7 linked regions of the Homo sapiens genome follow. The protein of the gene in region 3 interacts with the protein of the main gene of each other region in a pairwise test. Each region holds a gene or a part of one and is shown on either strand. Other genes may lie near its edges.

Region 1 (4,646 bases), on a different chromosome or scaffold from region 3:
TCTGAATTTTAATGTTGGCCTGCCTTGCTAGGTTGGGGAAGTTCTCCTGGATAATATCCTGAAGAGTGTTTTCCAACTTGGTTCCATTCTCCCTGTCATTTTCAGGTACACCAATCAGACGTAGATTTGTTCTTTTCACATAGTCCCATATTTCTTGGAGGCTTTGTTCGTTTCTTTTTTCTCTTTTCTCTCTAAACTTCTCGCTTCATTTCATTAATTTGATCTTCAATCACTGATACTCTTTCTTCCACTTGATCAAATCGGCTACTGAAGCTTGTGCATGCGTCATGTAGTTCTCATGCCATGGTTTTCAGCTCTATCAGGTCATTTAAGGTCTTCTCTACACTGTTCATTCTAGTTAGCTATTCATCTAATCTTTTTTCAAGGTTTTTAGCTTCTTTGTGATGGCTTCGAGCATCCTCCTTTAGCTCAGAGAAGTTTGTTATTACTGATCGTCTGAAGCCCTCTTCTCTCAACTCATCAAAGCCATTCTCCATCCAGCTTTATTCCATTGCAGGTGAGGAGCTGCGTTCCTTTGGAGGAGAAGAGGCACTCTGATTTTTAGAATTTTCAGCTTTTCTGCTCTGGTTTCTCCCCATCTTTGTGGTTTTATCTACCTTTGGTCTTTGATGATGGTGGCGTCCAGATGGGGTTTTGGTGTGGATGTCCTTTCTGTTTGTTAGTTTTCCTTCTAACAGTCAGGACCCTCAGATGCAGGTCTGTTGGAGTTTTCTGGAGGTCCACTCCAGACCCTGTTTGCCTGGGTATCACCAATGGAGGCTGCAGAACAGCAAATACTGCAGAACGGCAGATGTTGCTGTCTGATCCTCCCTCTGGAAGCTTCATCTCAGAGGGGCACCCAGCTGTATGAGGTGTCAGTCGGCCCCTACTGGGAGGTGCCTCCCAGTTAGGCTACTCAGGGGTCAGGGACCCACTTGGGGAGGCAGTCCAACTGTTCTCAGATCTCAAGGTGAGACCACCCTTTGAGTGGTCGTACACAGAAAATGTATAGCTTGCTGGGCCACAAACTGGTTCTGTGGATTCCCTGACCCTCTGACCTTTGGTTTCATCTCAGTAACAGTGGTCCGGGATACATAACAGCCAGTAACTGTAAGGTGATCGCTTTTCTGTGGCCTGGAATAAGTGCGGCAGGCAAGGAAAGGCTACAGAGGCCTGGCTCTTACAGCAGCCGGTCTTCCTAGCCACCCCCGCCCACCCCACCCCTTCCGTTCACACACTGCAGCTAACTTGGTCCCTGGGCCTGGCTTGGGACAGACAGAGGCGTCATCTTGTTCTCATATGCGGGAAGGCTATGAAAAGAAAACCGCGTGTTGGTCCAAAATGTAAACAAGAATTACACTAGGATCTTTTGTTCTCACTCTGACATGGTCAGAATTAATTTGGAGGTCCAAAAAGAGGGCGTTTTGTTTTTTAATCTGAATTACTTAATGCAGGGATATGTAGGGGGTGGTGGGGAAGAAACAAAAATACGTTGCTTAAGTCTATCAGTTGGTATTGGACCATCCCCAGGTCATTCTTCAGGGTCCAGTTTTTGTCATTAGGGGGTTCCTAACTTAGACTTCATATCCAAGTTGCTGATTAAACTTACTGTGAAAAGACCTAGATGGTAGAAGGCAAGCAGTGGAATGTGTCTGGGTATCCGAGAAATATACAGAAAGCACTTAAGAGAACTTAATCATTTTTTTCTCCCTTTCCTTAGATTGAATAGGGAAAACCTGCTTTCTGCAAACAACTGAAAAAGCTGCATTTAGAAACTGTTTCTTTGGCCCTCATCGAGAAGCTGGAACTTGTATTGTTAGGCCCCTTATGGGACAAGCTCTCAACTGCTGATCACCCAGTGATTGTCACCATGGCCAGCAAGAGGAAATCCACCACACCATGCATGATCCCAGTGAAGACTGTGGTGTTGCAAGATGCCAGCATGGAGGCCCAGCCCGCTGAGACCTTGCCTGAAGGACCCCAGCAGGATCTGCCCCCAGAAGCATCTGCTGCCAGCAGTGAGGCAGCACAGAACCCCAGCAGTACTGATGGCTCTACACTGGCCAATGGGCATCGGAGCACTTTAGATGGCTATTTATATTCCTGTAAATACTGCGATTTCAGATCCCATGACATGACCCAATTTGTGGGACATATGAACTCAGAGCACACAGACTTTAATAAAGACCCAACCTTTGTATGCAGTGGGTGCAGTTTTCTGGCAAAAACCCCTGAGGGGCTTTCCTTGCACAATGCCACATGTCACTCCGGGGAAGCCAGCTTTGTGTGGAACGTGGCCAAGCCAGACAATCATGTGGTTGTGGAGCAGAGCATCCCTGAGAGCACCAGCACTCCTGACCTAGCGGGTGAGCCCAGTGCTGAAGGGGCTGATGGACAGGCAGAAATCATCATTACCAAAACTCCAATCATGAAGATAATGAAAGGCAAAGCTGAAGCCAAAAAAATTCATACACTCAAGGAGAATGTCCCTAGCCAGCCTGTGGGTGAGGCCTTACCAAAGCTGTCGACTGGAGAAATGGAGGTGAGAGAGGGGGACCATTCCTTCATCAATGGGGCAGTTCCAGTCAGCCAGGCATCTGCCAGCTCTGCAAAAAACCCCCATGCCGCCAACGGGCCCCTGATAGGAACAGTGCCAGTTTTGCCAGCTGGCATAGCACAGTTCCTCTCCCTCCAGCAGCAGCCCCCAGTGCATGCCCAACACCATGTCCACCAGCCACTGCCCACGGCCAAGGCCCTTCCCAAAGTGATGATCCCCCTGAGCAGCATTCCAACGTACAATGCAGCCATGGACTCTAACAGCTTCCTGAAGAACTCCTTCCACAAGTTCCCCTACCCCACCAAAGCCGAGCTCTGCTATTTGACTGTGGTGACCAAGTATCCAGAAGAACAGCTCAAGATCTGGTTCACAGCCCAAAGGCTGAAGCAGGGGATCAGCTGGTCCCCTGAGGAGATTGAGGATGCCCGGAAAAAGATGTTCAATACAGTCATCCAGTCTGTGCCTCAGCCCACAATTACGGTTCTAAATACCCCACTCGTCGCCAGTGCTGGCAATGTCCAGCATCTCATCCAGGCCGCTCTTCCAGGTCACGTTGTGGGGCAGCCAGAGGGTACAGGAGGGGGACTTCTGGTCACTCAGCCATTGATGGCCAATGGGTTGCAAGCAACAAGTTCCCCTCTCCCCCTCACGGTGACATCCGTCCCCAAGCAGCCAGGTGTGGCACCCATTAACACTGTGTGTTCAAATACAACGTCAGCTGTGAAGGTGGTCAATGCGGCCCAGTCGCTCCTCACGGCCTGCCCCAGCATAACCTCCCAAGCCTTCCTTGATGCTAGCATCTACAAAAATAAGAAATCTCATGAACAGCTGTCAGCTCTGAAAGGGAGCTTCTGTCGGAACCAGTTCCCAGGGCAGAGCGAAGTTGAACATCTCACAAAAGTGACGGGCCTCAGTACCAGAGAGGTGCGGAAATGGTTCAGTGATCGTAGATACCACTGCCGGAACTTGAAGGGCTCCAGAGCGATGATACCTGGAGATCACAGTTCCATCATCATTGACTCTGTGCCAGAGGTGTCCTTCTCCCCATCGTCCAAGGTCCCTGAGGTAACCTGCATTCCGACAACAGCCACACTAGCAACCCACCCTTCTGCCAAACGACAATCTTGGCACCAGACTCCTGACTTCACACCAACCAAATACAAGGAGAGAGCCCCTGAGCAGCTCAGAGCCCTGGAGAGCAGTTTTGCACAAAACCCTCTTCCTCTTGATGAGGAACTGGACCGCCTGAGAAGTGAAACCAAAATGACCCGACGAGAAATTGATAGCTGGTTTTCAGAGAGACGGAAAAAAGTGAATGCTGAGGAGACCAAGAAGGCTGAGGAGAATGCCTCTCAGGAGGAAGAGGAGGCTGCTGAGGATGAGGGTGGAGAAGAGGATTTGGCCAGTGAGCTAAGGGTCTCTGGTGAAAATGGCTCTCTGGAAATGCCCAGCAGCCATATCTTGGCAGAGCGCAAAGTCAGCCCCATTAAAATCAACCTGAAGAACCTGAGGGTCACTGAAGCCAATGGCAGGAACGAGATTCCAGGGCTGGGTGCCTGTGACCCTGAGGATGATGAGTCAAACAAACTGGCAGAGCAGCTCCCAGGCAAAGTGAGCTGCAAAAAGACTGCCCAGCAGCGGCACTTGCTGCGGCAGCTCTTTGTCCAGACACAGTGGCCAAGCAACCAGGACTATGACTCCATCATGGCCCAGACGGGTCTGCCACGGCCAGAGGTGGTGCGCTGGTTTGGAGATAGCAGGTACGCACTGAAGAACGGCCAACTCAAATGGTACGAAGACTATAAGCGAGGCAACTTCCCACCAGGGCTACTGGTCATTGCCCCTGGCAACCGGGAGCTCCTGCAGGACTATTACATGACACACAAGATGCTGTATGAAGAGGACCTGCAGAACCTCTGTGACAAGACCCAGATGAGCTCCCAGCAGGTCAAGCAGTGGTTTGCTGAGAAAATGGGGGAGGAGACCAGAGCCGTGGCAGACACAGGCAGTGAGGACCAGGGCCCTGGTACTGGTGAGCTCACAGCAGTTCACAAAGGGATGGGTGACACCTATTCAGAGGTGTCTGAGA
Region 2 (4,646 bases), on a different chromosome or scaffold from region 3:
TAGGAGTTACAATGTGTCCATGGGCATCCTAAAAAAAATGATAAGCACATTTGCAAGTGTATGCCCTACTAACATTCTGGTCCTCACTGGCCCAGGTTTTTATTTATATACATATTTATTTTCATATAAGCATAAACACCATAAGCATGTATATGTATGAATATTAAAATTGCTTTAAATTTAGCATGATGCTTGGAGGAAAGAATCCAAAATAATCGCCCCCTGGCACTGGTCGAAAATTGCACTATTAATCAACAGCTCACCCATCAAAGACACAGAAATGCAGACAGAGACTGCAAATGGCCAAGCCAACGTATCACCATTGTTAGGAGAAAACAAAAACCAAATACTTAAACACAGATGGCTCCAGACCAAGTGTGAAGACAGTACATTGGCACGACAAGGGCTAAAGTGTTTTATAAAAGATAATTTAGGAGGTAGGGCTAGAGTCTATCTTGCTCAACAAATGAATCTGTACAGACCTTTGCCTTCAATCCCCAAAACAGATGAGTAACTTACATCATTAATCTCATTGTCTCTCCACACAATACTTTTAACAGTCAATCACAAAGTAGCCTGAGAGAAAGTTTCCCTGGATACTACCAAACACACAGGTTTGCAACAGATGTCTCCATGCAACTTTTAAAACAGATTCCATGTTAAGAAGTTAATATATCCTTATGTATTTACTAATCAATCCAGCTACATGTAGCCTGAAGCTGGAAAGTAAGAGGTATTAGCAAGGAAACCATTTAACTGCAAATAATGCATGGGAAAGCACCCGAAAGAATGTTATTTATAAATACAAAGACAAGCGCAATAGTACAAGCAATTGGAAAATCCCTACCTGGAAGCAACCCAAAGCAGTGCTTCTATCTGGAATATCTGGAATACATGGCACTAATAAATGTGAGCTCTTTTCTCATACCGACCACCCATCTAATCAATGAGCAGGATGCCTAGCCTTGGCAATCTCTTAGTTTTCCCATCTATAAAATGGGGATTAGAGATATGTGTTAATAAATGAAAGCTAACATTCTTCCAATGAATGACATTACAGAAAACACAAATATCACCACAAAATGTAGAAAAACATGTAATTTTATATTTAAAACTAGTTTATAGTCATGCTTTAAAGGCGATATGGTTGAATAGACATGTATTTGGACATAGATGGCTCTGCAGGGGATAAGGAGAGAGAGGGTCAGAGTGAAATGACTCATGAATTTGGGGATGCAGAGGCTCTCTGCAGCATGAAGTCACAAGAGGCTGACACCAAGGTCTCTCCTCCCCTCCACAAACAATTCTGTCTGTAGACTTCACAAGAAGGTGCGTGAGGAGTTTGGAAATTATTTTTTATTTTATACTTTTTGCATCCTTTAGTGAATGCACAGACTGGTGTATTATAAAAAACAGGTATATTAAAATAAAGCATTCTGATGTGCATTGAAAAACATTGATTCTTCTAATATTTTAAAAGGTGACAAATAAAAATGAATACCTTAAGTCTAGGAGGTTATAACTAACATCTTGACATGAGAAAATCTGGTCTAGGCAATAACACAAGTTTGTTAAAAGCTTGGAAGGAAGAAAATTCTGGGGGATCCAGATGTCTCAACTGGAGTAAAAATTTCCCTCCCCAAACAACTAAAGGCAAGTATCTGGGGCAAAAGAGTAAGCTGGCAAAATACTGTAACTGAAATGTGAGAATCCTGACCTTTTCCGAAACAGAGGGTTTCTACGAGGTTACATGTAAATCAAATCCTAAATTAAGATTTCTAGTGAAGCAGACCATTTAAAACACCCACGTTTGAAAGTTACACAAAACAGAGCCCATTTGTGGTGCAAAGAATTATTGTCTAAGTTATTCATTCTGTAAATTTTAATCTTTATCAGTTATATTTTCTTAAATATGTGTTGCAGGGTGCAGCATGCTTGTAACAACTGCTTGCTGCCCTTGAACTCTGAATGAACGCTTTACTGCAATCCCTTTCCTGAAATAGAATCATAGAATATTAGAGTAGAAGATTCCTTAGAGATCAGTTAGAACCGTGGTTCTCAACCTCTGCTACACATTGGAAACACTTGTGGAGCTTTTAAAATATACAGAGGCTCAGGCCTTCACCCCAAACCAATTAAATCAGAATGTCAGAGTGGAAGGGTATCAGTGTTTTTTAATAAGTTCCACAGGTGGTACTACTGGGCTGCCAGGATCATAAACCACTGATTTACCCTGTGTTGTCTGATACCATAGTCACCGACCACACGTGGATATTGAGCACTTGAAATGTGGCTAGTCCAAATTGAGATATGTTGTAGTTGTGAAATACACACTGGATTTCAAAGATTTAGTACCAAAAAAAAAAAAAGAGAGAGAAAGAGAGAATGTAAAGTAGTACATTAACATTTTTATATGGATTATATGTTTAAATGATAATATTTTGGATATATCAGGTTAAATCAAAGTGTTATTAAAATGACTTCACCTGTTTCTTTTTAACCTTTTTAATGTGGCTACTAAAACGTTTAAAATGAAATGTGCAGCTCACATTTGCAGCTCTCACTACCGGACAGTGCTGGGTGAGCCCGACATTCTCATCACAAATGAAGAAACTGAGGCAGAGAAGCACAATAAGCTCAAGGCAGCTCTCTGGGAATTGCGTCCCTCCTCCAGTCTCAGGCTGCTCATTGTTGCAGAGCCACGAATGGACAGAGCTTGTTATGCCATCAATCTAATTTCAACTCTTCTTCCCCCCTTTTGTTTTGCTAATTGTTTCTTCTAAGATTTGATATAAAAATCTATTTTCCTTATGGAAAAATATCTCTGCTCTGCTGTGTACACATTTGTGACTTGTTACTGCAGGATTATTCATCAAGGCAGAGTAGTTGAAATGGATGTTAAAGAATGAATCTAGGGAAACACTACCTGAAGGAAAATGCAGAGAATAGACAAAGAGAACATTTTGTCATGCTGTAGTTTAGAAAATGACCCTGGAGGCCCCCAGCGTTCTGACAGTCACCTTCGACACAGGATCATTCCCTGATATGATTTTAGAAGCTTGAGCCTATAATATTGTTTCTCCTCCTAGGAGTCAGTGTTTTTCTGCACAATGTTGTCATTGCAGTGAGGCAAATCAGACCCTTCATGATGGTGCACCACACCATAGCTAGATACCCTGGTGGAAACGGACTTTATCCCAATGCCTTCTACTGTCTGATGCATGAATTAATACCTGGCCAGTCAGAAGCCAACTTACTTAAAGGAGAAGATCTTGTTTTGATAAAGTGAAATGGTCCTACCAGATCTGGCAAATAGAGATTACATGTATTTCTTCTAATAGTCAGCTAATTCAAACAAAAACAAAAATTTTGTTGTTGTTGTTGTTGCATGTATTTTTCCCCCTTAGGAAGCCAACAGAGAGAGGACTGCATAAAACTGGCTGAAATGTGTTCTATTGGAGAAATCATGCCTGCAACACAGGAGCTCCTCAGTGTAATAAAAGAATAAAAAGAGACCTGAATTCTGATATAAAATCGCATGCAAACAGCTGGAGAGGAAACCTGTGGGTGAGGCCAAACAACACATGCAGTAGGTGCATTCAGGATTTCTATTTAGACATTGTTATTCCCCATCTTAAATACAGCACAGACTAAATATCATCTTAAATCAAATGTGTGGTGCTCTAGAGCCCTCTGTGTTGCATGCATGAATTTTTTTGGTTATGATTGGTCAAGTTTTGCCAGTCAAACCTCAAAGAACATACTTCCAGACTCAATTCACTTCTCGTCACCTCCAAACACACTCATATATATCCATCTGGAAAGATAATGTATTACAGACAGATCCTAGGCAAAGGTACACCTTCTAGAGTGAAAACATCACCCGTTTCTCTATTTGACAAAAAAGGTTATTTATTTTAACTTTAAATAATATTTCAGATCCCGTCCTCACAGATAATAGAGAAAAGACAGGTAGTAGAGAAAGTCACTGCCTTGTTCTTGAGACAGTCTTTCAGACCATTTTTAGTCCTGCCTGGTTTTTACTCTCAAATGAAATCTGGATGGTGTGGTTTTACAGGGTATGTCTCATAACAATGATGAAAAAAGGAGAATTTAAGTTAAAATTAATTAAGGAGGCCCTTATTAGAAAAAATAACATTGCAGATATTATATAAGAATGAATGAAATAGAAACTACAGTTTTTATGATTAAGGTGTTCATTCCAAAGATCTGATAAAAATTTGTCTTTGAAAGATTAGTCATCAAAAGGCTTGAAAAGAGTGAAGGATACAAAGTCATAGGTTATGCCCCATTCCTGACAAGGGCATTTATGGCAGGAGCACCCGACCTGGAGGCAGGGACCAGGCTTCTCAGCCTGGTTTGGCTCTCTCTAGCTCTGGGCCTTGGGTGAGCCAGGGGTCTCTTCTGTAAAATGAAAAATTGGTCTATCAATCCGAGGCCCTCCCCTAGCCCTACCATCCGTGTAAAGCCATAAGCCTTTGTAACTCACCATCAGAATCTCTAGGCCTAAAAGAACTCCCTCTAAAATCAGTTCTAGTCAAACGCCAGCCTGGTAGTTTTCAATCCTTGTTAAGGATTGAAATCCTAAAATCTTTTTAGGGTTAAGATCAGAAATGTAACCTTAA
Region 3 (3,500 bases):
ATACTCAAAAAGGGAAAAGAAAAACTAGAAAATCGTATGAATAACAAATCAGCACCAGGGTCAATTTGGGAAGGGTGAGAGGGAAGAAAGAGTTAGCTTGATAACCTTAGACCCAAGCTCCCAAAGACAGAACCTAGAGAGACAACGAACTACCTAGGCTAAGTAATCAGGAATTTTAGTGAAAGGCAAATATTAGCTTCTTAGCTCCTACTAATGAGCTCTACAAGGTTTTGAATGCAAGCCATTGTTAAAAATGAACATCAAGAAGTTAGTTCTTAACTCTTCTCAGCAACATGTGACTATGTAAGATATTCTCAAGCTCTTTCCAAATTCTCACCAGTATTTGCAAAGTCAAGCCAAGAGGCTGAAGCTGGTAACCATCACTGCACACTTTCCTCCTCAATCAATCCTCCACCAAGTAGGAAGGAGGTATATCGATATTCGAACATTTTTAAAAGGGTACAAGGTTGCCTGACCCTGTTTACTAAAAAGCACTAGTTATTGCTGACATTGTACTTGTTATAACTTACTTAGTCATTATTGGACATTACTGAATTATCGTTACTACTATAAAAAGTTCAGGCCGAGTGCAGTGGCTCATGCCTGTAATCCCAGCATGTTGGGAGACCCAGGCTGGCAGATTGCCTGAGATCAGGAGTTCGAGACCAGTCTGGCCAACATGGTGAAACCCCCTCTCTACTAAAAATACAAAAAAATTAGCCCGACGTGGTGGCATGCGCCTGTAATCCCAGCTACTTGGGAGGCTGAGGCAGGGGAATTGCTTGAACCAGGGAGGTGGAGGTTGCAGTGAGCCGAGATCGCGCCACTGCACTCCAGACTGGGTGACAAAAGCGAGACCTCGTCTCAAAAAAGAAAAAAAAAAAAAAAAAAGCTCAATTTGTTGGAAGTTTCATATTTTTAATCCAGTTTTTAAAAAATTTTAAGTAAAAGAGCAGTTTATTTTTATGCTTTAAATATACTTTTCTTTTCTTAGATATACCTGTAAATTTTGTATTATAGTTTCTCTATGATGTATGTCTTTAGACCATTTTATTTTGACAAAAAAGACTCTGATGGCTGGGCGCGGTGGTGCACGCCTGTAATCCCAGAACTTTGGGAGGCCGAGGTAGGCAGATTGCCTGAGCTCAGGAGTTCGAAACCAGCCTGGGCAACATGGTGAAACCCCATGTCTACAAAAGACACAAAAATTAGCCAGGCATGGAGGCACTTGCCTGTAACCGCAGCTACTTGGGAGGCTGAGGCAGAATAATCGCTTAAACTCAGGAGGCGGAGGTTGCAGTGAGCCGAGATCATGCCACTACACTCCAGCCTGGGTGACAGAGTGAGATTTCGTCTCAAAAAAAAAAAAAAAAAAAAGTCTGAAATAAACATGGTGAAAGTATCACATGGGAATTATTCTGGAAAGCAATTTAGAAATCTGTTCCAAGGCCTTAAAAATGTTCATATCCTTTAACCCAATAATCTGACATCCTCAGAAAAACTAGAAGAAATGATAAGACATTTGAGGTGTAGAGGCAATATAAGAATTGTTCATTGCAATATTAATTATAATAGCAGAATTCAAAAGGCTCACATATAAATTATGCCACATCCATTCATTTTATGAAATATCATGCAGCCTGTTACAAAGACTATTTACTGTCATAGGAAATGAGTACAACACTTACAAGGTAAGTGTGTATATGTCACAGAAAAAGAATGTGCCAAAATACTAACATCAGTCACTGAAGGAGGTGAGAGTATGCTTTCTTTTTTTTTTTTGAGACAGAGCCTCGCTCTGTCGCCCAGACTGGAGTGCAGTGGTGTGATCTCTGCTCACTGCAAGCTCCACCTCCCGGGTTCATGCCATTCTCCTGCCTCAGCCTCCAGAGTAGCTGGGACTACAGGTGCCTGCCACCACACCCAGCTAATTTTTGTGTATTTTTTAGTAGAGACGGGGTTTCACTGTATTAGCCAGGATGGTCTCCATCTCCTGACTTCGTAATCTGCCTGCCTCGGCCTCCCAAAGTGCTGGGATTGCAGGCATGAACTACCGCGCCCAGCCTTTTTTTTTTCTTTTTGAGACAGTATCTCGCTCTGTCACCCAGGATAGAGTGCAGTGGCACAATCTCGGCTCACTGCAACCTCCACCTCTGGGTTCAAACGATTCTCCTGCCTCAGCCTCCAAAGTAGCTGTGATTACAGGTGTGCACCACCATGCCCAACTAATTTTTTTGTATTTTTAGTAGAGACAGGCTTTCGCCATGTTGGCCAGGTTGGTCTTGAACTCATGGCCTCAAGTGATCTGCCTGCCTCAGCCTCCCAAAGTGCTGGGATTACAGACATGAGCCACTACGCCTGGCCATGTATGCTTTAATTTCTATATTTCTTTTCTCTTTTTTTTTTTTTTGAGGCGGAGTTTCACTCTGTCACCCAGGCTGGAGTGCAGTGGGGTGATCTCAGCTCACTGCAACCTCTACCTCCTGGGTTCAAGCGATTCTTCTGTCTCAGCCTCCTGAGTAGCTGGGATTACAGGTGCCCATCATCATGCCTGGCTAATTTTTGTATTTTTAGTGGAGACAGGGTTTCGCCATGTTGGCCAGGCTGGTCTTGTACTCCTGACCCTCCTGACCTCAGGTGATCCGCCCACCTCAGCCTTCCAAAGTGCAGGGATTAGAGGCGTGAGCCACCGTGCCCAGCCAATTTTGATATTTCTTAAAATAAAATTTTTAGAATGTTAGTTTTTCTAATTAAGTAGATTTAAGTTATTTTTTATTATTTATTTATTTATTTATTTGAGATGGAGTTTCACTCTTTTTGCCCAGGCTAGAGTGCAATGGCACGATCTCGGCTCACCGCAACCTCGCCTCCCGGGTTCAAGTGATTCTCCTGCCTCAGCCTCTCAAGTAGCTGGGATTACAAGCATGCGCCACCACGCCTGGCTAATTTTTTGTATTTTTAGTAGAGATGGGGTTTCTCCATGTTGGTCAGGCTGGTCTTGAACTCCTGATCTCAGGTGATCTGCCCACCTCAGCCTCCCAAAGTGCTGGGATTACAGGTGTGAGCCACCGCGCCTGGCCTTAGATTTATTTTTTACATTAACTAGATAATTGATGATATAGAATTACAATTAATTATTATGATTATTATTTTATGACAATAGCATTTAACTATGTTAAAAATAAAGCTAATATATTTTAGAGACACATATTAAAATGGTTATAGAATAATATGATGATTGAGATTTGTTACAAAATAATCCAAACTTGCAGGTGGGACAGTGGAAAGAATGGGAGATGGGAGTATTATAAAACGAGATTGGGCCGGGCTCAGTGGCTCATGCCTGTAATCCCAGCACTCTGGGAGGCCGAGGCAGGTGGATCACTTGAGGTCAGGAGTTTAAGGCCAGCCTGGACGACATGGTGAAATCCCGTGTCTACTAAAAATACAAGAATTAGCCAGGCATGGTGGTGTGTACCTGTAATCCCAGCTACTTGGGA
Region 4 (4,646 bases), on a different chromosome or scaffold from region 3:
GGCAGCGGCGCAATCACGGCTCACTGCAGCTTCGATCTCCTGGACTCAAATTCTCCCGCCTCAGCCTCCCGAGTAGCTGGGATTACAGGCATGCACCACCATGTCTGGCTAATTTTTGTATTTTTTGTAGACATACGGTCTCGCTGTATTGCCCAGGCTGGTCTCAAACTCCTGAGTTCAAGTGATCTGCCCACCTAGGCCTCCTAAAGTGCTGGGATTACAGGCAAGAGCCACCGCACCCGGCCTAGTCTTTACTTTTAAAGTGGGTTTTGGAAGCCCAGCTTCTCATTTAGGGTAGTAAAATGGCCCAGGAAATGTAAAAGTAGAAACTAAAGTTTCTGCTTTCATTCTTCCATTACACAATTATATCTCACAAGGTGAACCAGTTCTTAGAATCAAAGCAACTATCACTTATTGAGCACTTAATATATACCAGGTACTTTGCAAGGCACTCAGTTTTAATCTTTTCAAAATTCTAAACGTCAGAAAACCCAACTTCTGGTGGTTAAGTGACTTTGTCGACAGTCACAATCTAAGTGACAGGGCCCTCTTCCCACTCTGCTATGCTGCCTCTGAAGAAGCCAGCTCCTTACTACTTTTCTGGAGTTCTACCAGGCATTTTCTGGCTTTTCGAAGCAAAGGTACTTCCCATGGCAATCCACCTCCCTAAATAGAGGAAAACAAGAACAAAGGCAAAACAAAAAACAAAAACAAAAAATACTGAGTGACCTTCTCCACACTCTAGAAACCCTGACAATGTCAAAAATTCCAGTCAAAATACAACTTTAACCTCACTCCTATGATAAAATCAGAAATACCAAAATAATACACAAGCCTATAACAGAACTTGCTCACCCTCAAAAGTCCTTCTAGAAAGTCCTAGGTAACTTCCCCCACTTTTAAAAATTTTAATCTTTAAAACTGTGGTGAAATAGACATAAAATTTACCACTCTTAAGCGTACAGCTCAGTGGCATTGAGTACAGTTACACTGTTGGAATCCATCCCAGGACTTTTTTATCTTCCCAAACTGAAACCTTTACCAAGGTCCCCAATTTCAAGGTCTCTTGGAAAACATCATTTCTTCCCTTCTATTAAGACAAAGCTAAGCTCCTTCCTCCCCTCTCTCCCAGTTTTGTGTGCACCCCTGGTGAGGAAAGGTGCAGCAATAATATAGAAGACAGCCAGTGCCACCATCTCAATTTAACCACAGGAGAGGGTGATGTTTGACCTTCTCCAAGAGCCAGTCTATGCTCTGCATTTCTACGAAGACTTTGCTTTTCTACCATCTTACTTCCTGTAGGCTTTCTGGAAAATCAAGGGAAGATGTGAGTATAATTGGGATAAATCATCTTTTAGTTTGTCAGTAAACAAATACTTTGTGCCAGGTATCATCCTGGGAAATAGGACAGAGTGGAAGACAAGACAAAGTTCCTATCTTCCATTAGATCTTACTTTAGATAGAAGAATAATTATACAGTAGTATACCTGTGGGGCAGGGGCAGGGGGTACCTCCCAAGTCCCCCAGTAGATGCTTGAAACCAAATACAGTACTGAGCCTATATGCAGCATATTTTTTCCTATACGTACATACCTATGAAAAAGTTTAGTTTATAACTTGGGCGCAGAAAGGGATTAACAACAATAACTAATACGGGTACCTGAACATAAACACTGCCATACCATGACAGTTGATCTGATAATCGAGACAGCTACTAAGTGACCTGCCATTAGTCACTCAGTACATATTACATATTAGTATGTCTTCACATATTAACATATTTATTAACAGTGGCTGTCTGGGTGATGGCATTACTGACACCTTATTTACTCCTTAACATTCCTCTATATCTTCTAATTTTTCTATAACATCTGCATTTTTTAAAAGTGAGAAAACAGTAACAAATATTATTCTATAAAATAATATCAACAAAGGTCAGGATTGTTCTAGCCAATTTCAACTCTTGGCCCTGTTTCAAGAGTGACAAAAATAGGGGTATTCTCCTATCAAAGTAGCCACCCTTCCTTGCCTCTATCATGCTCAGTACCATGTTCCCCTCTATCTGCCCTTTTTTCTTTCATATGTACAATAAACATGTATTAGGTACCAGGAAATCTCGAACTTCCTTGAACCATGAATATCATAGAGACCAACTTGCCCCATGCACATCAATTCAAAGCGGACAGACCACATACAAAATCATTAGCCACCTGTGGTTGAGAAACAAATTGTGGTTAACTTGATTAACTGAGAGAACAGTACAGGGTAGCTAACAAGTCTGGAAACGTAGGTGAACACATAATAGTTTACTGATATTGCATTATAATCCATGAGAAAATATCTTTGTTTCAAGACTTTATGGCCAATCTATAGAAAATCTAAAGTGAAAATCCAGTGGGCCTCATCAAAGATACACAGACTGCAAATAATGGGAAATGCTAATTAAAGCAACAATGAGGTATCATTACATACCTAGCAGAATGGCCAAAACCAGAACACCATCAACACCAAATGCTGGTGAGGATGTGGAGCAACAGGGATTCTCAATCACTGCTCGTGGAAATGCAAAATGGTACAGCCAACTCGAAAGACAGTTTGGCAGTTTCCTACAAAACTAAACATACTCTTACCATATGATCCAGCCATATGGTAAATACGCACTCTTTGGTATTTACCCAAAGGAGTTGAAAACTTATGTTCACACAAAAGCCTGCACACAGATGTTTATAGCAGTTTTATTCATAACTGTCAAAACTAGAAGCAACTAAGATGTCCTTCAGTCGGTGAATGAATAAATAAACCGTGGTATATCCAGAGAACAGAATATTACTGAGCACTAAAAAGAAATGAGCTAGCAAGCCATGAACACTTTAAATGCATTATTACTAAGTGAAAGAAGCCAGTTTGAAAAGGCCATATATACCGCATGATTCCAACTATCTGACAATCTGGAAAAGGCAAAACTATGGAGACAGTAAAAAGATCAGTGGTTGCCAGTGGCTAGGAGGGAGGGAGACAGCACAGAGAATTTTTTTTTTTTTTTTTTTTTGTTTTGAGATGGAATTTCGCTCCTTGCTCAGGCTGGAGTGCAGTGGCGTGGTCTCGGCTCACTGCAACCTCCGCCTTTAGGTTTCAAGCGATTCTCCTGCCTCAGCCTCCTGAGTAGCTGGGATTACAGGCGCATGCCACCATGCCAGGCTAATTTTTGTATTTTTAGTAGAGACGGGGTTTCACCATGTTGGCCAGGCTGGTCTCGAACTCCTAACCTCGTGATCTGCCCGCCTTGGCCTCCCAAAGTGCTGGGATTACAGGCGTGAGCCACCGTGCCCGGCCCGCACGGAGACTTTTTAAGGCAGTGAAACTACTCAGTGTGACAATATAATGGTGGATACAAGTCCTTGTAAATTTGTCCAAAACCATAGGATAAACAGCACCAAGAGTGAACTTGATTGTGAACGATGGCGTTTGGGTGATGATGACGTGTCAGTGTAGGTTCCTTTGTAAGAATGTACTACTCTGGTGCAGGATGTTGATAATGGGGGAGACTACGCACGTGTTGGGGGGCAGGTGGGATACAGGATGTCTCTGTACGTTCTTCTCAATTTTGGTTTGAACCTAAAACTGCTCTAAAAAATGAAGTCTAATTTAAAAACTGGGAAATAAGACTTAATAACTTCGGAAGCTGAACCTGGAGCTCCTGGCAGTATCCTTTCTAGCCCCCAGTCTGCCTCAAATTGGCTCTCTGAATGCATGTGCCAAATGCAGGGTTCACAGTCTGTGCTCAGGAACCCCTAAATGCTGATCAGCTTCCACAGACAACCAAGGACCTAAAGATCTCTTTTGAACACTTCTGCAAACAGTCTAGTAACTCTTACACTGAAATACTGACTTTTAATAAACTTGTGTCTTTTGCCAGCAATAAAATTGTGGGATAAAATTATTCTCTCCTTGTGACTGGTAATGGAAACTTTAAATAGTGACCAGCTTTTCAGAGTACTGTAATATACAAATACTATACAAATACTATAGTGGACTTCATTAACTTCATTATTAGTATCTGAACAACATACATTGCCTCAGTTATCAGTTTATTTTGATATACTTCTAAAAATTTATATGATGGTAGATGAAATCCTTACAGCATCAGACATGCGCACATTTGCTCTCTACTTGTCATCATCCGCTTTTTCCACATGAAAGCACCAAATCCACACTCCTGGGAGCAGAGCTTTGGTTCCCGCAAAACTCACTGAAGTGCTGCTTAGCATGACATCACCTCCATTAGCTAGTGCCCAGCAGGGTACAAATTATTCTGAGGATGGTGATCTCATCTTAGAAGGATAAAAAAATCACATCCTAAGGGAAATAGTCACTGCCTTAAATGAAAACAGAAATTTTGCCTGTAATCCCAGCACTTTGGGAGGCCGAGGCGGGCGGATCACAAGTTCGGGAGATCAAGACCATCCTGGCTAACACGGTGAAACCCCGTCTCTACTAAAAATATAAAAAATTAGCCAGGCGTGGTGGTGGGTGCCTGTAGTCCCAGCTACTCAGGAGGCTGAGGCAGGAGAATGGCGTGAACCCGGGAGGTGGAGCTTGCCGTGAGCCGAGATCGCGCCACTGCACTCCAGCCTGGGCGACAGAGT
Region 5 (3,500 bases), on a different chromosome or scaffold from region 3:
CAATCCTGCCCCTTATGCATCTTCAGAGACTGTTTCCTATAGCTCCCCCAAACCAATTTGAGCATTATTGTCCTTACAGTGGGAAACAAAGTTTCACAAAAAAGTAACTCGCCTAAAATACGAAGCTTCTCCATTTCACTGTTAAGGGGCTATAAACTTACGTTTTCTCATACTCTAATGACACGTTACAAGTGAGGATGTATGCATCCTCCACCCTTTTCTTCATATCAGGATGCCGTGCTCCGTGGTCCAAAACAAGCCCTCTGATTAAGCTGTTTAAACACACACAAAATTATGGTTATTGATTTTCAGATGGGTATTTAATATATTAAACACTGAAATGAGAAGGTATTGATATTTCACGCAGTCACATTTTTCTTTTTTGAGATGAAGTCTCGCTCTGTTGCCCAGGATGGAGTGTAGTGGTGCCATCTTGGCTCACCGCAAGCTCCACCTCCTGGGTTCACACCATTCTCCTACCTCAGCCTCTCAAGCAGCTGGGACTACAGGCACCCACAACCATGCCCAGCTAATTCTTTTGTATTTTTAGTAGAGACGGGGTTTCACCGTGTTAGCCAGGATGGTTTCGATCTCCTGATCTCGTGATCCGCCCGCCTTGGCCTCCCAAAGTGCTGGGATTACAGGCATGAGCCACTGCGCCCGGCCTATTTCTTAAATTACCTGAAGATCCTACGCTGTACAGAAAAGTCTGCAGAGATGGTCTCACTGGTAGGCTGTCAAACTGTGATGACGTCCTTTAAAAACATGTTTTCTACCAAGCACCTGTAATCCCAGCACTTACGGAGGCAGAAGTGAGAGGACACCTTAATCCCAGGAATTTAAAACCAGCCTGGGCAACATAGGGAGACTCCATTCTCCACACAGACACACACACACACACACCCCAAAGGGAAAACAAACATGTTTTCTAACTAACTCTTTGAAAAAAATATTTTTTTAAATTCCTCTACTACTTCTCATTATGCTTTGTACCTAGCAATTCAATAAATGCCAAATGACTGATGTTGTTCACTTTTCAGAATCATTCTAACCATAAACATAACATTCACCTTATTTCAGGAGAAAATATTACTAAAAACAATATTCTCCTAGCAGTTTATCCAACTTATATCTTCAGGTAAATATATAACATTTTATATCCAAAGATATTTTTAAAATTGCCATCTCACGCCTGTAATCCCAGCACTTTGGGAGGCCGAGGTGGGCGGATCACGAGGTCAGGAGATCGAGATCATCCTGGTTAACATGGTGAAACCCCGTCTCTACTAAAAATACAAAAATTATCCGGGCATGGTGGCGGGCGCCTGTAGTCCCAGCTACTCGGGAGGCTGAGGCAGGAGAATGGTGTGAACCCGGGAGGCAGAGCTTGCAGTGAGCCGAGATCATGCCACTGTACACTCCAGGCTGGGCGACAGAGCAAGACTCCATCTCAAAAAAAAAAAAAGCCAACTATCTATATTGTACAAAGCACCCCTAAATTTCTAAACACAGTTTATTTTTTGTTTTTGTTTTTTTTTTAATGGGACGGGGTTTCGCTCTTGTCACCCAGGCTGGAGTGCAATGGTGTGGTCTCAGCTCACTGCAACCTCCGCCTCCCAGGTTCAAGCTATTCTGCTGCCTCAGCCTCCCGAGTAGCTGGGATTACAGTCATGCCCGGCACGCCTGGTTAATTTTTGTAATTTTAATAGAGACGGGGTTTCCCCATGTTGGCCAGGCTGGTCTGGAACTCCTGACCTGAGGTGATTTGCCCACCACAGCCTCCCAAAGTGCTGGGATTACAGGTGTGAGCCTCCATGCCCATTAGTATTTCACAGTCTTCTACCACCTACCTTGTATCAGTTTCAGATTTATGTTTCATCTCCATGATCTCAATCATGAAGAGATCAATAGGTTCATCTTGCTTTTTAATGGCCAAAATGGAGTCCACTACAGCCTGCAATTGGAGGAGCATAACCGTTAAGTAAATTCAATTTGCAGCAGAAACATGTTGCTTTTCAGAAGGCTAAAGTAGGCAGTTTCATTTTACAATTCTACACTGATTTAAGTCTTTTTCTATCAGCAAATAGAATACATTATATGTAAAAGGCAACAGCTGAAGTCATTTACATTTCTGAAATCTCCATCTATAATTCCCAAACATTAACATTAATTAACATTAACATTCCTCGTTTTATTAAAAATACTGGTAACTGGAAGCTTTCTAATAAAAAAATCTCCACTTTATAAACCTTTTAATGAAAGCTTCAATTTTACTTTTATAACCTGGTTAGGTATACTATTATTTTAATTTCCTCATTTTTAGAGACACAGATTAGGTATCATTGCCACAAAAATGAACCTACACAGCACCTTGTAATTGAAATTGGTAATCATATTCATGTTTCTACTATCAGAGATTTTCTATATAGGTATACTATACCAGACATAGACAAAATTTAATACATACCTCTGTTAAGACATCTGCAAGTTCAGCATGAACTTTAGTACGAAGAGATGTTCTGGCCACATCTATAAGTGTTTCCCTGTCCATCTCTCTGCTTACTTTGACTTCTTCCAAAAACTGAAGGGCCTTTTCCTTTGCAGCTTCAAATCCTTCAGTGATTATTCTAGGATGAAGGCCCTAAAATAAACACACATTAACACTTGCATCTTCAATTAGGTGCAACCATAGTTCATGATAAAGTTCAGGTAATTATTGAAGGAGTGTTCTGGATCATCATACCTTTGAACACGAGGTAATATAATGTGCTGGCTTTCTGAATACATTTAAAAGGACAAATATTCCTTTCAATGCAGAGCAGATGAACAGGTAATGAATGCTCTAGCACAGGGTCAAAGCCAAGGGAACTATAAAGCACACTTGGGTGTTCACTGTGCAAACCACTCTGAATCATTTCAAAACCAACACTGTGTCCCAACAACTCACAGATGGTAGCATTATCCTATCTTTATTTTCTTTCATTTTTTTTGAGATGGAGTTTCGCACTTGTTACCCAGGCTGGAGTACAATGGCACAATCTCGACTCACCACAACCTCCACCTCCTGGGTTCAAGCAATTCTCCTGCCTCAGCTTCCCAAGTAGCTGGGATTACAGGCATGCACCACCACGCCTGGCTAATTTTTGTATTTTTAGTAGACACGGGGTTTCTCCATGTTGGTCAGACTGGTCTCGAACTCCCAACCTCAGGTGATCCGCCCACCTCGGCCTCTCAAAGTGCTGGGATTATGGGCGTGAGCCACTGCGCCTGGACTATTCTATCCTTTCTATAGGTAATCTCAAACTAACTCACATCATTTACTAATAAAAATAAAGACTGTTCTCTTTCTCCAGGAAATTCTGACAATACATTCATATTCACTGAGGTTTGCTTTAACCTTGGAACTAGTCAGGGCTAAAAAAGTGGAATTTATCCAAATATAAGCTTTTGGTTGCCTTTTTCCTAACAAATATGCCTAGTCCTAAACATTCCATTTTTAG
Region 6 (3,986 bases), on a different chromosome or scaffold from region 3:
CCTCTTTGACTTTGCATGGGTTCCCATGCTCTGGAGTGTACTTCCTGCTCTTCCTTGTTGGCTGGGACTCTGGGAGTGATCCCCTAGAGAAAGCCTTCCCTGGAGTCTCCAAGTTGGCTTCATGCATCTCATCTGGGCTCCTTGGCATCGTGTGCCTTTCCCTCCTGTGCTTACCATATTGTACCATCATCCTCTAGGGCTCCAGGAGGGCAGAGATCCATTGTGTTCAGTTCATCTCTGCATACTCAGTCTCTAGTGCAAGGCCTGGCACAGCCAGCAGGTTGGTGACTAATGATAGTTATTCTAATAGGTGAACATTGAGAACTCACATATATGACATTATTTAATCCCCAGGACCTCCCAATGAGGACAGTTTGATTATTATCACCCCATTTTACAGATCATACAATTGAGGCCAAGAGAATATTAGTAATTTAGCCAGGGTTACATGGTTAGCAAATGGCTCTAATAGGTCACTTAACCATTCCATTCTCTCTCCAAGTGAAAATTGCCACCAAGGCCAACCCTTGGGATGGAAAATCACTAAAGCCTGACAGTGTCCGGTCCCAGCTGGAGACGTCATTGAAGAGGCTGCAGTGTCCCCAAGTGGACCTCTTCTACCTACACGCACCTGACCACGGCACCCCGGTGGAAGAGACGCTGCATGCCTGCCAGCGGCTGCACCAGGAGGTGAGGGGGCCCTCCGAGCTCCAAAGGTGGGCTCCTGCTCCTTTCTTTATCCTGATCCTACTCATGAGAGCAGAGGCACCAGGGCAGTCCCAGGGTGGGGCAGGGAATAGCCCCATTCCCTGGGGCCCCACCCTGGCCTCCCCTTCCTGGTCTGGGCTACACTGCGTTCTGACTGGAGCCTCACCCATGCAGGGCAAGTTCGTGGAGCTTGGCCTCTCCAACTATGCTAGCTGGGAAGTGGCCGAGATCTGTACCCTCTGCAAGAGCAATGGCTGGATCCTGCCCACTGTGTACCAGGTGAGGGCCGGGGCTGCAGAGGCCAAGGTCTCCAGGACTCCTGCTAATCCTGGGCTCTCTTTGCCCCCCTGACTGCCCCCTGTGCCGTCTGCATAGCAGCCACTCCCCTGCTGAAAGCCTGCAGATGGCTCCCATGTACCCTCAGGATGCCATTCAAGCTCCTCAGCCTGGCCACTGGGCATCTGCTTCCTTCCTGCCTATCTGTGCACCTTGGACCCTTCCTTCCCCACCTCCTTTCATACTTCAGCCTGGAACACATTTCCCCTGCCCTCCTCCCTGGGAGAAGCACTCAGGCCTTACATAGAGGTCTCCTCCTCTGGAAGCCTTTCTAGACAGCCCCATAGGAGTCTCCAGTCTCCAAATCTCATCTTCATACATTCAGCGAGTACTTTCCAGCTCCTTGTTTGATTGTAGAACCTAACTTTATTGTAATTAACTGCCTTCCTTGTCTATTTTTTTAAACTTGAGTAAACATCTCCTGGAAGCAGGGATTTTGTGATACCTACTTGTGGTTGTAACCAGTGTCCAGCATGGAGTTCATACAGCAGATATTTGTGGAAAGATACCATTCCACTTCAATTTTCTGTCCTTGGGCCCAACACCTTCCCTCCATCCCCTACTAACAGTAGTGATGTTAGAATATTGCTGAAGTCCTGGGCCGGTGTTGCTTTAGAGGTTTGAAAGTGGAAGGCAACAGTTCCTTCTCTTGACATGTCCACCCTGTCCCCGGGGTCCCTCTCCCTGCAGGGCATGTACAACGCCACCACCCGGCAGGTGGAAACGGAGCTCTTCCCCTGCCTCAGGCACTTTGGACTGAGGTTCTATGCCTACAACCCTCTGGCTGGTACGTGGAGCATTCCTGACCCTGTCTCAGCCTATTCCTGACCCACAGATGCCCAGCCCAGAATTTATGAAGCAGGGAGGGTTTGACAAGAGGCTGGGCTGTGTTCTTCAGCCCCTCCTGGGTCCCTGCCCCTCCCCTAGACCAGAGCCCTGAGGGATGTGGCAGCTTCTGGGGCACTCTGGGGCCAGGGGCTGATTGCTGCCTTCCCGCAGGGGGCCTGCTGACTGGCAAGTACAAGTATGAGGACAAGGACGGGAAACAGCCTGTGGGCCGCTTCTTTGGGAATAGCTGGGCTGAGACCTACAGGAATCGGTGAGCCGGGGGTGGGCTTGGTGAGGATGGCTGGGGTGGGGTCAAATCTATGTGGAATGAAGTCCTGGGCTGTTCCTGAGGTAAGACCTTCCTTTGCTGTTTGCATCTCCTCCCCTGCATTGCTTCAGGAATTCCCAAGCCCTCTGTGGGTTTTCTTGTTGTCTTGAGACCTCTGGGGGGGAAATGAGGATCCCTGGATGTTGGGGTCTTGAAGTCATAGCTCGTTCCTGAGCAATCACCTGCTGGGAAGCAAAAAGCGAGCCCAGGATGGGCCAGGCATGGTGGCTCACACCTGTAATCCCAGCACTTTGGGACACCGAAGTGGGAGGGTTACTTGAGCTCATGAGTTCAAGACCAGCCTGGGCAACATGGTCTCTACAAAAAAAAAATGCAAAAAAGTGGTCAGGTGTGGTGGTGCACACCTGTCTGTAGCCCAGCTACTTGGAAGGCTGAGGCAGGAGGATTACTTGAGTCTAAGAGGTTGAGGCTGCAGTGAGCCATAATGATGCCACTGCACTCCAGTGTAGGCAACAGAGTAAGACCATGTATCAAAAAGCAAAAAGAGAGCCCAGGAGGGAATCCTGCCCCATCTGAGCAGCCTTCGTGTCCCTAGGGAAGTCCCTAGGCTACTGAGTCCTCAGGAGTAAAGATCCATTGAGGTCTCTGCTGAGGGGCCCAGCATCCTGGGTGGTTCTGATGCCCAGCAAAGTGGGAGACCTATGACTAGAGAGGACACCCGCCCCTCAGGGCTGCAGGGTGTGGGGTGGGGCAGTGGTCCTGGATGGCTATTTGGTTGCGGCTCCCAGTGTGACCCCCATGGTACTGACCCCTGTGCTAACATCCCCTCTGCACAGCTTCTGGAAGGAGCACCACTTCGAGGCCATTGCGTTGGTGGAGAAGGCCCTGCAGGCCGCATATGGCGCCAGCGCCCCCAGTGTGACCTCGGCTGCCCTCCGGTGGATGTACCACCACTCACAGCTGCAGGTAACCAGCGACCCTGGGTGCTCAGCTTCTTCCCTTCCAGGGGGACCAGCGTCACCTTTAGGTGAAGCCCAAAGCATTTGATTTCTGAATTCCTCTGAAATTTTTCTTTCTTCCAATTCTCATAAGCACTCTTCCCACTGGTCTTTGATGGTATCTGAGTGGAGGCTTTGTAGTGAGGGATTTTCATTACAGGGATTTTCTTATTCCTTAGGCTTTCTGAAGTATGATTATCCCAGTGTTATTGATGAGGAAACCGAGGTTCACCCAGCTATTAAAGTGGCAGACATTTTAACACAGGTTTAACTAAGACCCACCCATCTCACCCTTTTGGTTTCTCTCTCTTGATGCCTCATGTCTTCCTGGTTAAAACTTATTTCCTGATCAGTGGCAGTGACCCACACCTGTAATCCAGCACTTTGGGAGGCCGAGATGGGAGGATTGCTTGATCTCAAGCATTTGAGTCTAGCCTGGGCAAGAAAATGGGACCCTATCTCTACAACAAATCAAAAACATTAGCCAGGTTGTGATGGCTTGCTCCTACGTTCCCAGCTACTCTGGAGGCTGGGATGGGAAGATGGCTTGAGCCTGGGAGGTCAAGGCTGCAGTGAGCTGAGATTACACCACTGCACCTTAGCCTGGGTGACAAAGCAAGACCCTGTCTAAAAAAAACAAGCAAACAACAATGAAAATAACAGCAACAAACTTATCTCCAGCTTCAGCCTTCCATGTTGCATAGTGTCTGGCATATATCCGGTAGATGTTCAGTACGTGGGAGCTGTGTTTTACATAAGTTTTCTCATTCCAATGCTGAAAACAGAGAAAAAGATTGAATGTCATGCCTGCATCGACAGCACATATA
Region 7 (4,646 bases), on a different chromosome or scaffold from region 3:
TGCTAGTGTCATGAGATTTGTTCTTAATGACCTTCTTGCCAGAGAAGGCAGAAGCCACATTTAGAAATTCTACTTTCTGTCTATTAAGGATGTAATATCATACCATCTGCTCCAACAGCAGTTTATCCTCTGTCCCTTTTTTGTTTCGTTTTGTTTTCTGCCAAGAAAGAGTAAATGTGTTCTTAGCATTTCCCCCACCCAGATCTTAGCTCACCGAGGTCCCTGGCCTCTTTGCTCTTATGGGTTCTTGCTTCCCTCTTATATTGGCCTTTGGTTACTGGCCCCTCTGACCTCCTATGATCTGCATCTTCTGTGCAACTCCTTATAGCACGGAGCTTGGTGCTCATCTTATTTCCAGTGTGCTTCCTGTCCTTACTCTCTGGAGAAAACCTGGATGATGTCTGTTAAGGCCTCTGCATTCTCTTCTGTCACCCTTCCTTTCCTAAGACCTCCCTGGGATCTGCCTCTCTCCTCTGAACTTCTTGGACTGCCTTAATGAGGTGTGTATATCTGGCCAGACTGCTTTTCCATCCTAAGCTATCGTGAATTCTGGCATGGCACAGTCCCTTTTTTTTTTTTTTTTTTTTTTTGAGACAGTATCCCACTCTGTCACCCAGGCTGGAGTGTAGTGGCATGATCATGGCTCACTGCAGTCTCGGCCTCCCAGGCTTAGGTGAGCCTCCCAAGTAGCTGGGACTATAGGCGTGCCACCATGCCCCATTAATTTTTTCTTTTAATCCCCGGAGATGGTCAGGAAACGGTTATTTTATTTGTTTATTTATTTTTTATTTTGCATTTTTTGTAGAGATGGGGCTTTGCCATGTTGCCCAGGCTGGTCTGGAACTCCCAGGCTCAAGCAATCCACCTGCCTTGGCCTCCCAAAGTGCTGGGATTACAGGTGTGAGCCACCGTGCCTGGCTGGTTGATGGTCACTTTTTCTCAAGGTTTTGGCACATCCACCTCGCCTGTCAGTCTCTCCTGTTCCAGGCAGACCTTGCTGCTCTTGGTCAAAGATTTTTCTCTAATCACACAGGACCAAAAGCCAACACTGAGTGCTGCTCTCTGAGCAATGCCCTGCTCAGTGACAATTGGCTAATTAAAGTGTAAACTGATCTGAAGGCCAGGCTCTCCTGGGATGCTTGCAAATCAGATCAAGTTTACTGCAGGCTCCAGGCTGAAAGACTATCCCCAGAATGGTCCAGTGATCATGATCCATAGCTTTGTATCCAACTCCAGGAGGAGGTTAATGAGCATCATTTACATCATTTTCATTGAATGTGCTTAACACGGAAGGGATTGCCAACAAGAAGCTCCTTGTATGGAGTCAGTTCTCTAGGCCCAGCAGTGTTATTTGTGATTGCCTAACCAGGCGGAATGAGACCTAAAGACAGTGAAATGTGTAACCTGTGGTAGATAACATTTAAAGATGCCCTGTGTTGTCTGGATAGGCCAAGTTATACTAAGGTTATAAACATCCCCCAGATCTCAAGGGCTGAACACAATGACAATTGATTTCTTTTTCACATAAAGTCAGCTAAGGGTTCAGGTGGTTCTCTAGAGTACCTGTCCTCCATGTGTCATCTTGATTGTCCAGACTGATGGAGGTTTCACCTACCTGAGACTGTAGCACCTGGAACACAATCTCTTCCATGTAGCTTGGGAAGAGAGGACTGGGCAAGGTTGAACACAGGTACTTGAAAGGCCTTGGAAATGACACACCTCGTGTCTGCTCCTGTCTCATTGGCTAGACCTAGTTATGTGACTGCCATTAACTTCAAGGAGGCATCCCCCACATCTGTGGAAGTGAGAGAGCCCAGGACGAGTGTCAACAAGGACCTCCAAAGTCACTGTTGTACTCTTGCTCCTACAGTTACTTTGACGAGCCAGTGGAGTTAAGGAGCAGTTCTTTCTCTAGCTGGGATGACAGTTCAGATTCCTATTGGAAAAAAGAGACCAGCAAAGATACTGAAACAGTTCTGAAAACCACAGGCTATTCAGACAGGTATGAATGCAAAACTGTGGGGTTGTAGTAGTGAATCCATGCATTTCTGGGAAAAAATTGCTGATAACATGATGACATGAAAACCCTTGTAAGGGGCTGGGCACGGCGGCTCATTCCCATAATCCCAGCACTTTAAGAGGCCGAGGTCAAAGGATCACTTGAGCCCAGGAGTACAAGGCTGCAGTGAGCTATGATCACGCCAGTGTACTCTAGCCTGGTCAACAGAGTAAGTCCCCCTCAAAAAGGAAAACCTTTTGAAACCTTTTGTAAGACTAGTAAATGATTTTGTTCTACTATTTCAGGAATATTGTTTTGATTTTGTTTTTTTGTTTTGTTTTGTTTTATTTTTGAGACAGAGTCTCACTCTGTTGCCCAGGCTGGAGTGCAGTGGTGCAATCTCAGCTTACTGCAGCCTCCGTCTCCCAGGTTCAAGCGATTCTCCTGCCTCAGCCTCCCGAGTAGCTGAGACTACCGGTGCACACCATCATGCCAGGCTAATTTTTGTACTTTTAGTAGAGACGGTTGCCTCACCAGCCAGGCTGGTCTCAAACTCCTGACCTCAAATGATCCGCCTGCCTCGGCCTCCCAAACTGCTGGGATTACAGGTGTGAGCCACCGTGCCCAGCCTGTTTTGATTTTAAATTACTGATTCTAAATAGGAAGTGCACATCAGAATCCTCTGTGGACCTTGAAAGAAATGTGTGTGTGGAGTCCTCTTCCCTGAAGATTCTGATCCATGGGTCAGGGGTGGCCTAGGTCAGGAAGGTTTCACCTTTTTCCCCAATTTTTTTTTTTTTTTTTTTTTTTTTAAGATGGAGTCTTGCTCTGTCACCCAGGCTGGAGTGCAGTGGTGCAATCTCAGCTCACTGCAAGCTCCGCCTCCTGGGTTCACACCATTCTCCTGCCTCAGCCTCCCGAGTAGCTGGGACTACAGGCGCCCGCCACCACGCCTGGCTAATTCTTTTGTATTTTTAATAGAGACGGGGTTTCACCATGTTAGCAAGGATGGTCTCGATCTCCTGACCTCATGATCCACCCGTCTTGGCCTCCCACAGTGCTGGGATTACAGGCGTGAGCCACCGCACCCGGCCTTTTTTCCCCCAATTTTAAGGTATTATTTACATATAGTAAAATTCATCTTTTTAAACTTACAGTTCTGACAAGCACATACATTCATGTAATTACCACCAAAACCAAGAAACAGAACAGTTCCCATCACCCCCAAATTTTCCCCATGCCCTTTGTAGTCCCCCCTCCCCTGCCCCTGGCCCCTGGTCACCCCAGGTCTGTTTTCTGGCCTTACAATTTTGCCTTTCCCAGATATCATATAAATGGAGTCATGTAGCAATTGGCCTTCCTACTCTGGTTTAACTTGTCTTAGTACACTTGGGGAAGACTCATTCATTCTTGTATTCATTCCTCTTACTTGCCAAGTTTATCCATTCACCTGCTGAAGGGCTGTCTCCAGTTTTTGGTGATTATGAATGAATTTATTTTCCAACCAGAGGACTTCTGAGAGTGCAAGGGGGTACTACTAATATGTTGGGACAACAGGTGTGACTTGAAATTGTCCCAGGTAACTGGGACATTTTATAACCTATACAATGTAGAGAGAGCAGTGTCCTATGGACATTCCAAACAATGTATTCAGTGTTTACCCAGTTGATCTGAAATGTGATATAACATATTTGAACTGAAATGTGAAATAACAGACCCCGTTTTAAACAGAAATTCCTTCAAATTTTGTATCGTTTGGGTATTTATTCTTTTTTTTTTAATTAGAATTTTCAGGCTTTTAAAAACAGCCTAAAATCCTTTTACAAAATTTACTGCTGTTGGCATTTTAAAAAATAAAATGAGTATGAAACACATTTGCTTCACCTCAAATTAGTTTAACCTAATTTGGCTGTTTTTAATTGCAGACCTACTGCTCGCCGCAAGCCAGATTATGAGCCAGTTGAAAATACAGATGAGGCCCAGAAGAAGTTTGGCAATGTCAAGGCCATTTCATCAGATATGTATTTTGGAAGACAATCCCAGGCTGATGTAAGGGTCCAGAGAGTTTCTTTGGGTGCCCCATAATGCAGGAAGGAAGTGTGGGTGTGGGCATTGTCGGGGAGGAGATCCTGAGTGAGCTGGGCTCAGGCTGCCAGATGCCCTCTGGCCTGAAAGTGCTGGAGTCAGGACTTGAACCCAGGTCTGTATAACTGATCATGTGCTTGCTACCTCAGCAAGAGGAATGTTTACAAGACAAGGACTTATCTCACAGTTGTCTTATTCCTCTCTTGGTGTTTTGAATAGCCATTATCCAGTATCTTTTGAATATATTTCAATTGTTGGTGCAGCTGTAATTTACTTAATAACTTTTAAACATAGTGAAATGAAGCACATAGATATGTTTCTTTTTTTTTTTTTGAGACGGAGCCTCCTTCTGTCACCCAGGCTGGAGTGCAGTGGCATGATTTCAGCTTACTGCAACCTCCGCCTCCCAAGTTTAAGCGATTTTCCTGCCTCAGCCTCCCAAGTAGCTGGGAATACGGCCGTGCACCACTACACCTGGCTAATTTTTGTATTTTTAGTAGAGATGAGGTTTCACCATATTGGCTAGGCTGGTCTTGAACTCCTGACCTCAGGTGATCTGGCT

What was found.
Region 1: the proteins of ATXN3 (region 3) and ZHX3 interact in binary tests that used the Homo sapiens proteins (3 or more experiments, as listed by UniProt).
Region 2: the proteins of ATXN3 (region 3) and CREB5 interact in binary tests that used the Homo sapiens proteins (3 or more experiments, as listed by UniProt).
Region 4: the proteins of ATXN3 (region 3) and CASP3 interact in binary tests that used the Homo sapiens proteins (3 or more experiments, as listed by UniProt).
Region 5: the proteins of ATXN3 (region 3) and CCT6A interact in binary tests that used the Homo sapiens proteins (3 or more experiments, as listed by UniProt).
Region 6: the proteins of ATXN3 (region 3) and AKR7A2 interact in binary tests that used the Homo sapiens proteins (3 or more experiments, as listed by UniProt).
Region 7: the proteins of ATXN3 (region 3) and ARFGAP3 interact in binary tests that used the Homo sapiens proteins (3 or more experiments, as listed by UniProt).

What each region holds. Positions count from the first base shown.
Region 1 is NC_000020.11:41,202,141-41,206,786, reverse strand, and holds part of ZHX3 (zinc fingers and homeoboxes protein 3), read left to right. Parts: intron 1-1,720; 5' UTR 1,721-1,870; coding exon 1,871-4,646. UniProt on the Homo sapiens protein: Acts as a transcriptional repressor. Involved in the early stages of mesenchymal stem cell (MSC) osteogenic differentiation. Is a regulator of podocyte gene expression during primary glomerula disease. Binds to promoter DNA.
Region 2 is NC_000007.14:28,415,077-28,419,722, reverse strand, and holds part of CREB5 (cyclic AMP-responsive element-binding protein 5), read right to left. Parts: intron 1-4,646. UniProt on the Homo sapiens protein: Binds to the cAMP response element and activates transcription.
Region 3 is NC_000014.9:92,075,583-92,079,082, forward strand, and holds part of ATXN3 (ataxin-3 reference isoform), read right to left. Parts: intron 1-3,500. UniProt on the Homo sapiens protein: Deubiquitinating enzyme involved in protein homeostasis maintenance, transcription, cytoskeleton regulation, myogenesis and degradation of misfolded chaperone substrates.
Region 4 is NC_000004.12:184,639,002-184,643,647, forward strand, and holds part of CASP3 (caspase-3 isoform a preproprotein), read right to left. Parts: intron 1-4,646. UniProt on the Homo sapiens protein: Thiol protease that acts as a major effector caspase involved in the execution phase of apoptosis. Following cleavage and activation by initiator caspases (CASP8, CASP9 and/or CASP10), mediates execution of apoptosis by catalyzing cleavage of many proteins.
Region 5 is NC_000007.14:56,054,765-56,058,264, reverse strand, and holds part of CCT6A (T-complex protein 1 subunit zeta), read right to left. Parts: intron 2,901-3,500; exon of another isoform or gene 2,763-2,900; intron 2,642-2,762; coding exon 2,468-2,641; intron 1,955-2,467; coding exon 1,851-1,954; intron 273-1,850; coding exon 162-272; intron 1-161. UniProt on the Homo sapiens protein: Component of the chaperonin-containing T-complex (TRiC), a molecular chaperone complex that assists the folding of actin, tubulin and other proteins upon ATP hydrolysis.
Region 6 is NC_000001.11:19,305,159-19,309,144, reverse strand, and holds part of AKR7A2 (aflatoxin B1 aldehyde reductase member 2), read left to right. Parts: intron 1-502; coding exon 503-690; intron 691-882; coding exon 883-987; intron 988-1,734; coding exon 1,735-1,831; intron 1,832-2,043; coding exon 2,044-2,143; intron 2,144-2,997; coding exon 2,998-3,127; intron 3,128-3,796; exon of another isoform or gene 3,797-3,934; intron 3,935-3,986. UniProt on the Homo sapiens protein: Catalyzes the NADPH-dependent reduction of succinic semialdehyde to gamma-hydroxybutyrate. May have an important role in producing the neuromodulator gamma-hydroxybutyrate (GHB). Has broad substrate specificity.
Region 7 is NC_000022.11:42,808,169-42,812,814, reverse strand, and holds part of ARFGAP3 (ADP-ribosylation factor GTPase-activating protein 3), read left to right. Parts: intron 1-1,870; coding exon 1,871-2,002; intron 2,003-3,924; coding exon 3,925-4,048; intron 4,049-4,646.